Homo sapiens: one gene and its partners. The protein of the gene in region 1 purifies or fractionates together with the protein of each later gene. This does not show direct contact. Each region holds a gene or a part of one and is shown in the gene's direction. Other genes may lie near its edges. The genes, in order: CDC42SE2, HPN and TSC22D3.

The links.
Region 2: the proteins of CDC42SE2 (region 1) and HPN purify together in Homo sapiens (co-immunoprecipitation; one large-scale study listed by IntAct). This does not show direct contact.
Region 3: the proteins of CDC42SE2 (region 1) and TSC22D3 purify together in Homo sapiens (affinity purification with mass spectrometry; 2 studies listed by BioGRID and IntAct, with this or other methods). This does not show direct contact.

The regions. Positions count from the first base shown.
Region 1 is NC_000005.10:131,361,513-131,365,162, forward strand, and holds part of CDC42SE2 (CDC42 small effector protein 2), read left to right. Parts: intron 1-3,650. UniProt on the Homo sapiens protein: Probably involved in the organization of the actin cytoskeleton by acting downstream of CDC42, inducing actin filament assembly. Alters CDC42-induced cell shape changes.
Region 2 is NC_000019.10:35,048,121-35,051,770, forward strand, and holds part of HPN (serine protease hepsin precursor), read left to right. Parts: intron 1-1,142; exon of another isoform or gene 1,143-1,169; coding exon 1,170-1,271; intron 1,272-1,354; coding exon 1,355-1,396; intron 1,397-2,325; coding exon of another isoform or gene 2,326-2,401; intron 2,402-3,650. UniProt on the Homo sapiens protein: Serine protease that cleaves extracellular substrates, and contributes to the proteolytic processing of growth factors, such as HGF and MST1/HGFL. Plays a role in cell growth and maintenance of cell morphology.
Region 3 is NC_000023.11:107,765,777-107,769,426, reverse strand, and holds part of TSC22D3 (TSC22 domain family protein 3), read left to right. Parts: intron 1-3,650. UniProt on the Homo sapiens protein: Protects T-cells from IL2 deprivation-induced apoptosis through the inhibition of FOXO3A transcriptional activity that leads to the down-regulation of the pro-apoptotic factor BCL2L11.

The DNA.
Region 1 (3,650 bases):
GAATCTTTATAGCTGAAGTGCCAGAAGGCGTGTGTTACAGGGTGCTTTTTTAGTTTGCCTTGTGTTAACCAGCTCAGTTAGACCCTCTACCTTGTCACAGGGACAGAAGGCTTTCTGTATCCTGGGTTCTTGCTTTGGTGTGCTAGAAGAATTGGATCACACGTGGGCTTGGAGAAGGAGTGCAAAGTTTTATTGAGTGGAAGTAGCTCTCTGTCGATGAGGGAGCCAGAATGGAGATGGTTTTCCCCTGGAGTTGGGCTGCTAGGTGGCCCCAGCTCTCCTTTAACTGCCCCGGCCAAACTCCGCCTCATCCAGCCAGTTGATGGCCTGCTGGCATGCTGGTGTCTGTTGGTGTGCTCTTGTGCAGGCGTGTTCCCTCGACGTCTTTTCACCGTCTAACCGCTTGTGTCTTCTTCCGCTGATGTGCTCCTCTCGACGTTTGGCTGTCTATGTGTCTGCCTGCTAGGGTCTTGGGTTTTTATAGGCCCAGGATGGGGGCACGGCGGGCCAGGGTGGTCTTGGAAAATGCAACATTTGGGCCCAAAAGCAGGAGTGCCTGTCCTCACCTATGTTTGTCCGTGGGGGTGGAGCCCTAGCCATGGACCTGCCTTTCTCTACCCAGCACTTCCCTGTTCCCACTCCCATATCATTTAAAGGGACCACACTCTTCCCTTCCCAGCACTCCCGTATCAGTACAACATTTACATATGTTAGTTGTTTGTTATTGTTTAATGAATACATACTTATGTGAAGTATTCCATAAAAATTCCATGGACATCTGATTTCTTACCTTTTTGATTCCTGAGAAAAATTACATAAAACTTAATGGGGCTTTGTGGTCACCATAATGGAGGAATAGCTTGCTTGTTGGCATCAGGAAACAGATGTAAAGAATCACTAATAATTTTTGTTTCTTTACATTATACAAAGACATATCCTTGGTATTCTAAACAATATCAAGACTGCCTTATCTTAAAGCTGCTTGATCATCTGCTAAAGTTTTCTAAAATATTTACTGAAATAAAGTGCTGCATGCCGACTCTCCCACTTGTTCCCTATCACCCCCTGCTTTTGCACATTCCATGTGTGAAAAAGGAACAACCCAATATTGGGAAGAAAATAGAATGTATTTTTCTGAGTATAGTAGAATAATCATTTTTCTCCTCCTACTCCTTCATTTTAATATAGTACAATGCAGGGTATAATAGAGCCCCAATGTTTTGAGCCGTGGTATTCCAAAACTTAGTAACTTAGTAATGCTGTAGTTGCTGTTGCTAGATATAGCTAAGGTTGTAGATTTTTAACTGGATGGTTGCTGCCCTGCAATTTAATTTTTTAAAAAGATTTGTTAGGGCTGGGCGCAGTGGCTAACACCTGTAATCCTAGCACTTTGAGAGGCCAAGGCAGGGGGATTGCCTGAGCTCAGGAGTTCGAGACCAGCCTGAGCAACATGGTGAAACCCTGTCTCTACTAAAAAAAAAAATTAGCCGGTGTGATGTTATGTGCCTGAAGTCCTAGCTACTCCGGAGGCTGAGGCAGGAGAACTGCTTGAACCCGCAAGGTGGAGGTTGCAGTGAGCTGAGATTGCGCCGCTGTGCTCCAGCCTGGCGACAGGGCAAGACTCTATCTAAAAAAAAAAAAAGATTTATTAGCTGTTGACAGAACTATAGTGAATTCTTCACCAACTTATTGAGCATCAGAATACTGGTCAGCTTCTAAGGTAGCTTTAAAAAACAAGGAACCCTGATTTACAGAAAAAAAAAAAAAAGCCACTTTTCTATTCATATTATTTGCCTTCCCATCTAATGGTTTCCCACATAGCACTGATTTTTTGTAATGCTGCTTGTATCTGGAATGTGTTAATTTGTTTTTGTTTGTTTTGAGACGGAGTTTTGCTCTTGTCGCCTAGGCTGGAGTGCAATGGTGCGATCTTGGCTCACTGCAACCTCTGCCTCCCGGGTTTAAGCAATTCTCCTGCCTCAGCGTCCTGAGTAGCTGGAATTACAGGCACCCTCCACCATGCCCAGCTAATTTTTGTAGTTTCAGTAGAGATGGGGTTTCTCCATGTTAGCCAGGCTGGTCTCGAACTCCTGACCTCAAGTGATCCACCCTCCTCGACCTCCCAAAGTGCTGGGATTATAGCTGTGAGCCACCGCGCCCGGCCTTTTTTTTTTCTCTTACTCTTTTTTTTTTTTTTTTTTGAGAAGGAGTCTCGCTGTGTCTCCCAAGCTGGAGTGCAGTGGTGCGATCTTGGCTCACTGCAACCTCCGCCTCCTAGGTTCAGACAATTCTCCTGCCTCAGCCTCCCGAGTAGCTGGGACTACAGGCATGTGCCACCACACCCGGTTAATTTTTATATTTTAGTAGAGATGGAGTTTCACCTTGTTGGCCAGGCAGATGTCGAACTCCTGACCTCAAATGATCCTCCTGCCTCAGCCTTCCAAAGTGCTGGGAATTGCAGGCATGAGCCACCACACCTGGCCTTGGAATGTGTTATTTTGGACATGTACGCACTTACAGTACATTTGTAACAATAACACTCTGGTATTTCTACAATGAGCCAGGTAGTGGTGAGATAACAGTGAATACAACAGATGTCATCTCTACCATCATCTTGTCTCACTTTAGTGGAGGACATATTTACTGTACAAATAAGTATGTATGGTATCAGGTGGTGATAAGTGCACCGTGGAAAAAGAAAGCAAGAAAAAAGAGGATGACGTTGGAGAAATGGGGATATGAATTTAAATAGTGTGTTCAGGGAAGGCCTCTCAGATTAAGTGCTGTATAGGCACAAGTTTAAGGGAGTAAAATACACAAATACTTGGGGCAAAGCACTTAGAGTGAGTAGTAAGTGCAAGGTTGGGTGTGTGAGTGGAACATCAGAGAAGGCAGAGTGGCTGTGAGGCATGGGGCCAGTGGTGGGAATGAGGTCTAAGAGGTAACCAAGGGCCAGTTCATGTTTGGTCTTCCAGGTCATGAAAAGACTGGTTTTTATTCTTTGTGAAATAGGAAATCATTGAATGGTTTAGAGCAAAAAGCCAAAGTATGTGGAAGAACATACCTATTTTTTCTAGTGGTTTGACTTACTGTATGCTCAGACAGAGAGCACTGACAAACCATACTGCACACTGTAGCCCAGTGAGCCACTTCACTCCTTCATGCACATTTAGCCTCCTCAGCTGTCTGGAGTTGAGTATGGAATATGCTCTGCAATAAGGTTGCTTATTCCCTTTGTGGCTTTTCTTTCTGCCATTTGTTGTTGTTCTGATGTATAGTTTTAACCTATAATAGTCAGGGTGGGGGCATGAGGATATGTGCAAGTGATGGTGCTGGAGTTGCCACAGTGAAACAGAGGAAGTGCAGTGTGCTCAGTGTTTAGATGGTTCAAGGTTACTTCAAGGGAAGTGGTTGAGGAAACGGAGTGGGGATGGATCAGTTAGACAGCTAAGGATTGCTATAAGACCTTAGACATTTTAGAAAACATCAAAGTTAGGCCAGGTGCAGTGGCTTATGCCTGTAATCCCAGCACTTTGGGAGGCCGAGGCGGGCTGATTACCTGAGGTCAGGAGTTCGAGACCAGCCTGGCCAACATGGTGAAACCCTGTCTCTACTAAAAATACAAAAAATAGCTGGGCGTGGTGTCGCAT
Region 2 (3,650 bases), on another chromosome or scaffold:
GGCTCAGAGAGGGGAGGGGAGTTGCTCAGGCCCACACATCTCTGATGATTTATAAAGCATTTATAGAGAACTTGCTATGTGCCAGGCACTTCCGCACAGTGAGAGCCAGGATGGCTTCGTGGCTGTACACAGGGGACCTGGCATCAAACCTGCCCAGGGTTCTGGACGCTGCTCTGCCTCTTCCAGGCTGTCACTGTGGGCACGTGACCCCACTTCTCTGAGCTATCTCAAAAACAGGAATCATAGTTGTGGGATTGAAATAAGGACTAAATGAGCTGATGTATTTAGAACGGTGCTTAGCACCTGGAGGCATCAATACAATTTGAGCTATTCTTCTTCTTCTTGAAAATAACTTTAAATTATTATTTTTAGAAGTAGGTGCTCAGTGGATGCCCATTTAATAGATAAGAAAGTTGAGGCTCAAAGATATGATGGCACCTGCCTTAGGTTCCAGCTAGGAAGGGGTAGGGTCAATATTTTTAAATGAGGCTGGCCAGACGCAGTGGCTCACTCCTGTAATCTCAGCATTTTGGGAGGCTGAGGAAGGAAGATCGCTTCAGCCCAGGAGTTTGAGACCAGCCTGGGCAACATAGCAAGACCACGTCGCTAAAAAAATTAATACATAAAATAAAATGAGGCTGGCAGATTTTCAAGTGGAGGGGCAAATTTGATCTTGCAACTGGGTACCATGAGAGAGGTCTGATTTAGGGGGTATCTAGGGGCAAAGCATCTAGAACAGCAGAAACGACTGAGGCAGCGAGGAAATGCCAGCGGCAGGGAAGAGAGCTACCAAGAGGGCAAAGGTTGGGGGTCACAGTCCCAAGAAGAGATGGCCCAAAGCAAAGACAGAAATACAAAAGCACAGTGTCACTGGGGAGGAGACATTCCCTAAGTGCCAGGAAAGTGCAGGGCGGAGGTGGAGACCGTGGCAGGTGGCCCGGCCATGCCCCCCTCCCAGCTGGAACCCTGGGGGAGCTGGGCACCTGGTTGTTCACACGGCAGGGGAGGAACAGCCCTGTCAACTGCTGGCCCCGGGAAACTGGGCCTGGGGAGGACATGCTTGGGCATAATAAGTTAGCCCTGGGGGCAGGGCAGAGCTGGCCTCGGGCCCAGACCCTGCCGCAATGAGGACAGGCCTGGCTGTGGCCCCAGCATGGTGTCTGTTGCAGGTGGCCGGACTGTGCCATGCTGCTCCAGACCCAAGGTGGCAGCTCTCACTGCGGGGACCCTGCTACTTCTGACAGCCATCGGGGCGGCATCCTGGGCCATTGGTGAGAGCGGTTCCTGTGCCTCTGACCTCCCCTGGCCCCTGCAGCCTCCAGCCTGCCTGCCCTCACCCCTCCCTTCTCTGCAGTGGCTGTTCTCCTCAGGAGTGACCAGGAGCCGCTGTACCCAGGTGAGTGGAGCAGGCTGGGACCCTCTGGGGGAGCCCTGGAGGACACGTGTATCTGGCGGGAGCTCAACAAGCGTATTTGTTGAATAAATGCACAAATGCATGCAGAAATGCTAATCATAATAGTGCATTTGTATTGAGTGCCTGCTATGTACCAGGCACTATTCTAAGCACCCCACATGTCTAACCCAGACTTTTTCAGACACCAGTGTATTACTCATGAGTGCCTCATAAAATTAAATTAGTGAGTTGGAAAACCATGTTTTTTTTTTAAGTATGAAATAGATTCGATTACAGACTATCACAGTACATCTCTCAGTAAGTAAAGGTTATGCTAATTTTTGTTTGTTTTTTTTTTTTTTTGCATCCATATACATGTAATCCCACTGCATCCCCACACTCTGAGGGTGGGACTGTTATTCTCCCTGTTTTACAGATGGGGAAACTGAGGCTTTGAGCAATGCAGCAGTTTGCCCCAGACTACAGAGCTATGGGCTACATCAGGATGTAAAAATGTGTTTCTTACTGCGTGGCATGGTGAAAACATGTTGGGGAGGCATGATATAAATTCAGTGGACCCTTCTAACTCTCCTAGGAGGTAGTTTTTTTGTTTGTTTGTTTTAAAAAAGAAAAAAGTCTTGCTCTGTCACCCAGGCTAGAGTGCAATGGTGCAGTCTCAGCTCACCGCAACCTCTGCCTCCCAGGTTCAAGCGATTCTCCTGCTTCAGCCTCCCAAGTACCTGGGAATACAGGCGTGTGCCACCATGCCCAGTTAATTTTTTGTATTTTTAGTAGAGATGAGATTTCACCATGTTGGCCAGGACGGTCTCTATCTCCTGACCTTGTGATCCACCCGCCTCGGCCTCCCAAAGTGCTGGGATTACAGGCATGAGCCACTGCGCCTGTCCCTGGTAATTAGCTCCATTTTACAGATGTGCAAAATGAGGACCAGAGAGGACATGCAGCTGGGGAACGAGGGGCCAGGAACAGCTCTTAGACTTATCCACTGTAAGTGTGTCTGCAGGCATGTGGAATGAATGGCCACACAAATAAATAGATAAAGAAACTAACTGTGGGATGAATGAATGAATCTTCCCAAATGCCAACTTCAAGCTGCCATTCCCTGATGCAGGACAGCAGGAAAAAAGGGGAAGTTGGGTGGTGGGATGTATTTTTCATGTCTGTGAGCCTCATCTAATTCCATAAAGGATTCAGTTCACACTAAAATCAGAAATGAAAATCCAGACAAGAAAAGCCAACATCAACATTAATCATCATTACCAGCACTTAGCATTTGTATGCACCAGCCAAGGCCTTGGGACCTTATGATATCAACTCATTAAGTCTTCCCAACAACCTGTTGTTTTTCTTTTCTTTTTTTTTTCTTTCTTTCTTTCTTTCTTTTTTTTTTTTTTTTTTTTGAGATGGGGTCTTGCTCTGTCGCCCAGGCTGGAGTGCAGTGACACGATCTTAGCTCATTGTAACCTACATCTCCTGGGCTCAAGCAATCCTCCCATCTCAGCCTTCTGAGTAGCTGGGACTATAGGCTAATGCCACCATGCCTACACAAAATTATTTTGTCAATAACAAATTATTGTTATTTTTATCTTTTTGAGCCAGAGTCTCGCTGTGTCGCCCAGGCAGGAGTGCTGTGGCGCGATCTTGGCTCACTGCAATCTCCATCTCCCAGGTTCAAGTGATTCTCCTGCCTCAGCCTCCTGAGTAGCTAGGACTACAGGCACGTGCCACCACACCCAGCTAATTTTTGTATTTTTAGTAGAGGCGGGGTTTCACCATGTTGGCCAGGATGGTCTCAAACTCCTGACCTCAGGTGATCCACCCGTCTCGGCCTCCCAAAGTGCTGGGACTACAGGCATGAGCCACCACACCCAACCTCATTTTTTAAATTTTTAGTAGAGATGGGATCTTGCTACATTGCCCAGTCTGATCTTGAACTCCTGAGCTCAAAGCAGTCCTCTCAGATCAGCCTCCCAAAGTGCAGGGATTACAGGTGTGCACCACCACAACCCATTTTCCTATGGGGATGCTGAGGCACAGAAAGGCTGAGTGACTTGCCCCAGGTCATGGAGCTAGTCAGTGTCAGGGCTGGGATTTGAACCCAGGCAGCCTGCGTAGTAACTGTATATAGTGTCTACACTTGATTGCTTGTTAAAAAAAAAAAAAAAGAACAGCTGAATTCATTGCCATAGTAAAGACTGACATATGCCAGGCCCTGGCGGCAGCCTTTACCCAGCAG
Region 3 (3,650 bases), on another chromosome or scaffold:
TTTAGATATTTCATATAAATTGAATCATACAATATTTTGTGTCTGATTTCTTTCACTCAACATGTTTTAAAGTTCATCCATGTTGTAGCACATATCAGTACTTCATTCTTTTTATGGCTGAATAAAATTCCATTGTATGGATATACCTCTTTTGCTTATCCATTCATCTGTCAGTGGACACTTAGGTTGTTGCCCTCTTTTGGCTATTATGAAGAATGCTGCTATGAACACTGGTGTACAAGTATCTGTTCAAGTCCCTGCTTTTAATTCTTTGGGGTATATACCTAGGAGTGGCATTGCCCAGCACCTACTTTTCAACACAATTTTGTGGTCTACTGCTCGTAGTCAACACATACGTAGGAACCTGTCATAAAATGAGCAAATGTCTCAGGGCATTCCTTGAGGAGAATGCTCCCTCTCTAAGCCAGCTGCTGGTGCTAGTGATTACAACGAAGAGAAAGCTACAAAGTTTGGCAAAGTGATGGTGCTGCCTGGGAATGGACTTTTTATGGGGGAAATGACATGCTTTGGAGATTGCATCCATGAGTTGGAGACTGGCAAAAGTTTTAGTGTGTATCTCTCATGAATGGCCAAGGTCTAGCATACCTTTTTAAAGAGTAACATGTGACACCATTACTTGCCATTAACTACTTTGTATGGATTTGTTTATCAGACCTCTGGTCATGGTGACAGCCCACTGGGAATAGGGTCCTATGGGACTGGAATGTGGCAAAGCCAACTTTGGAGGAGAGAGGTAGAGAGATGGGGCTGGAGTCCATGGAAGGCCTAGCTTGGGCTGTTACAGCACGGGGCCTGGACAGCATGAGAGTTCAAAAGATCTGTTTGGAAAGTTCATGCTCTTAAAGAAAGGTGGGAAGCACAGAGCTTGAATTTCATCTACTCCTCAGTTTTTGCCAGGAGTGGACTATTATTTACTGAGTCCACACCTCAGCAAATAATGCTTTCCAGGGTGACCTTAGTTTTCTTCCCTGCCTGAAGAGAAGGTTAACACTCCTGCTTATATTTGCACTTGCAGATAATCCAACAAGCTCTCCATTCCAGGTAGAGGGTTGGCTCCTTTCCAGATCAGGTACTGAAGGCCAGGGAGTCTGGGTAAAATGGAGATGGATGTATCTGGCCAAGACTGCCAAGACCTCTAGGCATCCCGGGTGATGGAACCCTGCAGAGTTCTTGCCCCCACCTGGTGGGTGGGTTGGTTGGGAGGAATGAGTTTGGCCATGTCTGCACCTGGTGGTGGCTGTTGCGCTGTTTGCTCATCGTGATTCTGCTCCTACCTGAACTTTCTCTTCTTCTTATGTAAGCCATCCCTAGAGATAACTGTAAAGCCATAATCTGCCATGGCTGGCTGGGCTTATATAACAAATTGGTTGGTATCGTGCAATAGCCTCTTGAACCCTGGAGAAACCAATGTGCTAAGTTGAGACTAAAACATGGGTTCATTTGATGGGGTATTTTGTGTGCTCAGTGAACTCAGGGGAGAGGAGTCCATGACCACAGGGGTCAGAAAGATGAAATTTCCTTTTAAATAAAGAGAACAATAATGGCCCAGAACATACTGTGCTGTCCCAAAGTCTGCAATAATGGGACAAGGGTTAGGGCATTGCTGTAGCACCACAGCTTTGGCAGAAAAGGCCCTCCACAGAACCCCATGGGCTAGGAGGAGCCCCATGAAGGCCAGAAGGCTAGATCCCAGTTTCAGGGCAACCTAGGTTTGATGAAGAGTCAGGTCAGGGAAAATGTCTTTTGGAGGCCACTGTCTACCATGCTGAAATCCAGCTTAACTAGAGTTGGAGTGGGGCTAAGATGCGATCTGTGAGAGCAGAAAGCAAGCTTTTCTCGATTCTATTCCAGGCAGGAGGGAATTTCATCAGTAGGCAAGGCAAGTTCACTTGTACCTTCTAGCTGAAAATTCCTGCCCCAAAGTAGCTGTGGCCCTTCTGGAAACTGTATAAGAGGCATTAAGATCCCAGCCAGCACAGAAGACTGAATGGGAAGCTTCCCATTGTGCAGACACTAGCCCGAGGGAAAACAAGAGCTGGAAGCAGGCTGGATCACTGATGATCCAGGCTCACCATTGGCCTTCCTCTCCTGGGAGCCACTTTCCTCAAATAGGTCCAGCCAGAAATCGGGCCCCTGCCTATGGACAGAGCACACAGGGACCTTCCCCATCCTTCCTCGAAGGAAGACTTTACTCACAGAATAGGCTTGAGTATTCAACCCACTTCTTCTAATCTTCTCTTCAGGGGAGATGGAGAGCAGCTGTTCACAGCTTAGGGGTCTGGCCAGGATTCCCGCTCCGTGCTATCTAGGCTGGTGATTGGCTAGAGCTATCCCTAAGGAAGAAGGGGGTGAGAAGTGAGAGGAAAGGAAGCGACTCCAGCAGCTCCTTCCTGGCTTACCCCACTCCCAAGACACCCCTCCTTCAGCGCTGCCGTTTAGCCTCACTCCCAGACTAGGCTGGGCCTAGGCCAGCCTGAGGGCCCTGACTCATAACTAGCACATCTTATGTAACAGCCAGGTTACTGAGGCATCACACTTCTGCTTGCTCAGTGGTAGGCTTCCCTGGGGACAGGCATTTGGAAGCCTGCTGGGGGTCCAAGTCAAGCTCATCATACTTCCCAAGGAAAAGCCTACTCTCCCCAGTGTCAGGCAAGCAGTCTGCTCAGAGGCAAATGCCAGGCAGCAAAGCCTGACCCGGTCCCACACTCAGCCTCCACACTCAGCAGTAAATGTAAGCAGACAGGCAAGCTGGAGTGGACTTAATTTGGCTTGAGGCATTTTGGAGGTGGCAGGGAGGAACCTACTATCACCTGATAATGCACTGCTAAAGAAACTGCGTGGTGCATGGAGAGGCCCCAGAACAGGTCGCAGAAGTCCCTCTTCCTTTTGTATCTGCTTGTTGGTTCAGAAACTACTGGGTGGGTTGGGGTGGGGGGAGTTGTTGGGGGGGGGGCGGAAACTCCAGGCTGACTGACACCAGGTGAAAGGGTTTACCGGAAGGTGGAGGAGCTGTTTAAAGGAAGGCCTTTCAAGAGCCAATTCCCAGTCCACGCTCCATGAAGTCTCAAAGTCCCCAGGTTGACCTGAATTCACAGTGATTCTTAGCTCTCTGCCTGGCCTATTCAGAAAATTACATTACCGGCTTAGTGGAACTGAGCCCCCAGTGAAGTCAGTATTGCCAGATTCTATGACAGATTTCTCTAATAACAAATGTGACTATCTACAGCACAGAATACCCCCATCAATCTAATATTCCACTAGCTCAAGGTTTGTAACTAAACCAATAGCTCCTCTTCTTCTCTTCCTTTGTCTTTTCCCCAGCCTGTCTCACGTGTGTTGCCATCAAGTAAATGGCTCACAGGCTGTGAGTAGGTGGGGACACTGCTCTCCACTCCAAGAAATAGAGGAGAAACAGGGAAACAAAGTCAAAAAGGTGGTGTGGGAATTACCAGCAGGCATGATTTGTATCCAAAGCTGACTCATAAGTTCTTGGACAAGCTCAAGACTACCATCTCAGGGCTCAGAAGAGCTTGGCACCCTTAGTCCCCCAGATCACAGAATCCAGTGAAAATTAGGGGACCTGAGATGGAGATGCAGAATTTTCCTTTGTGGGACTCCTCCCAGGCTTC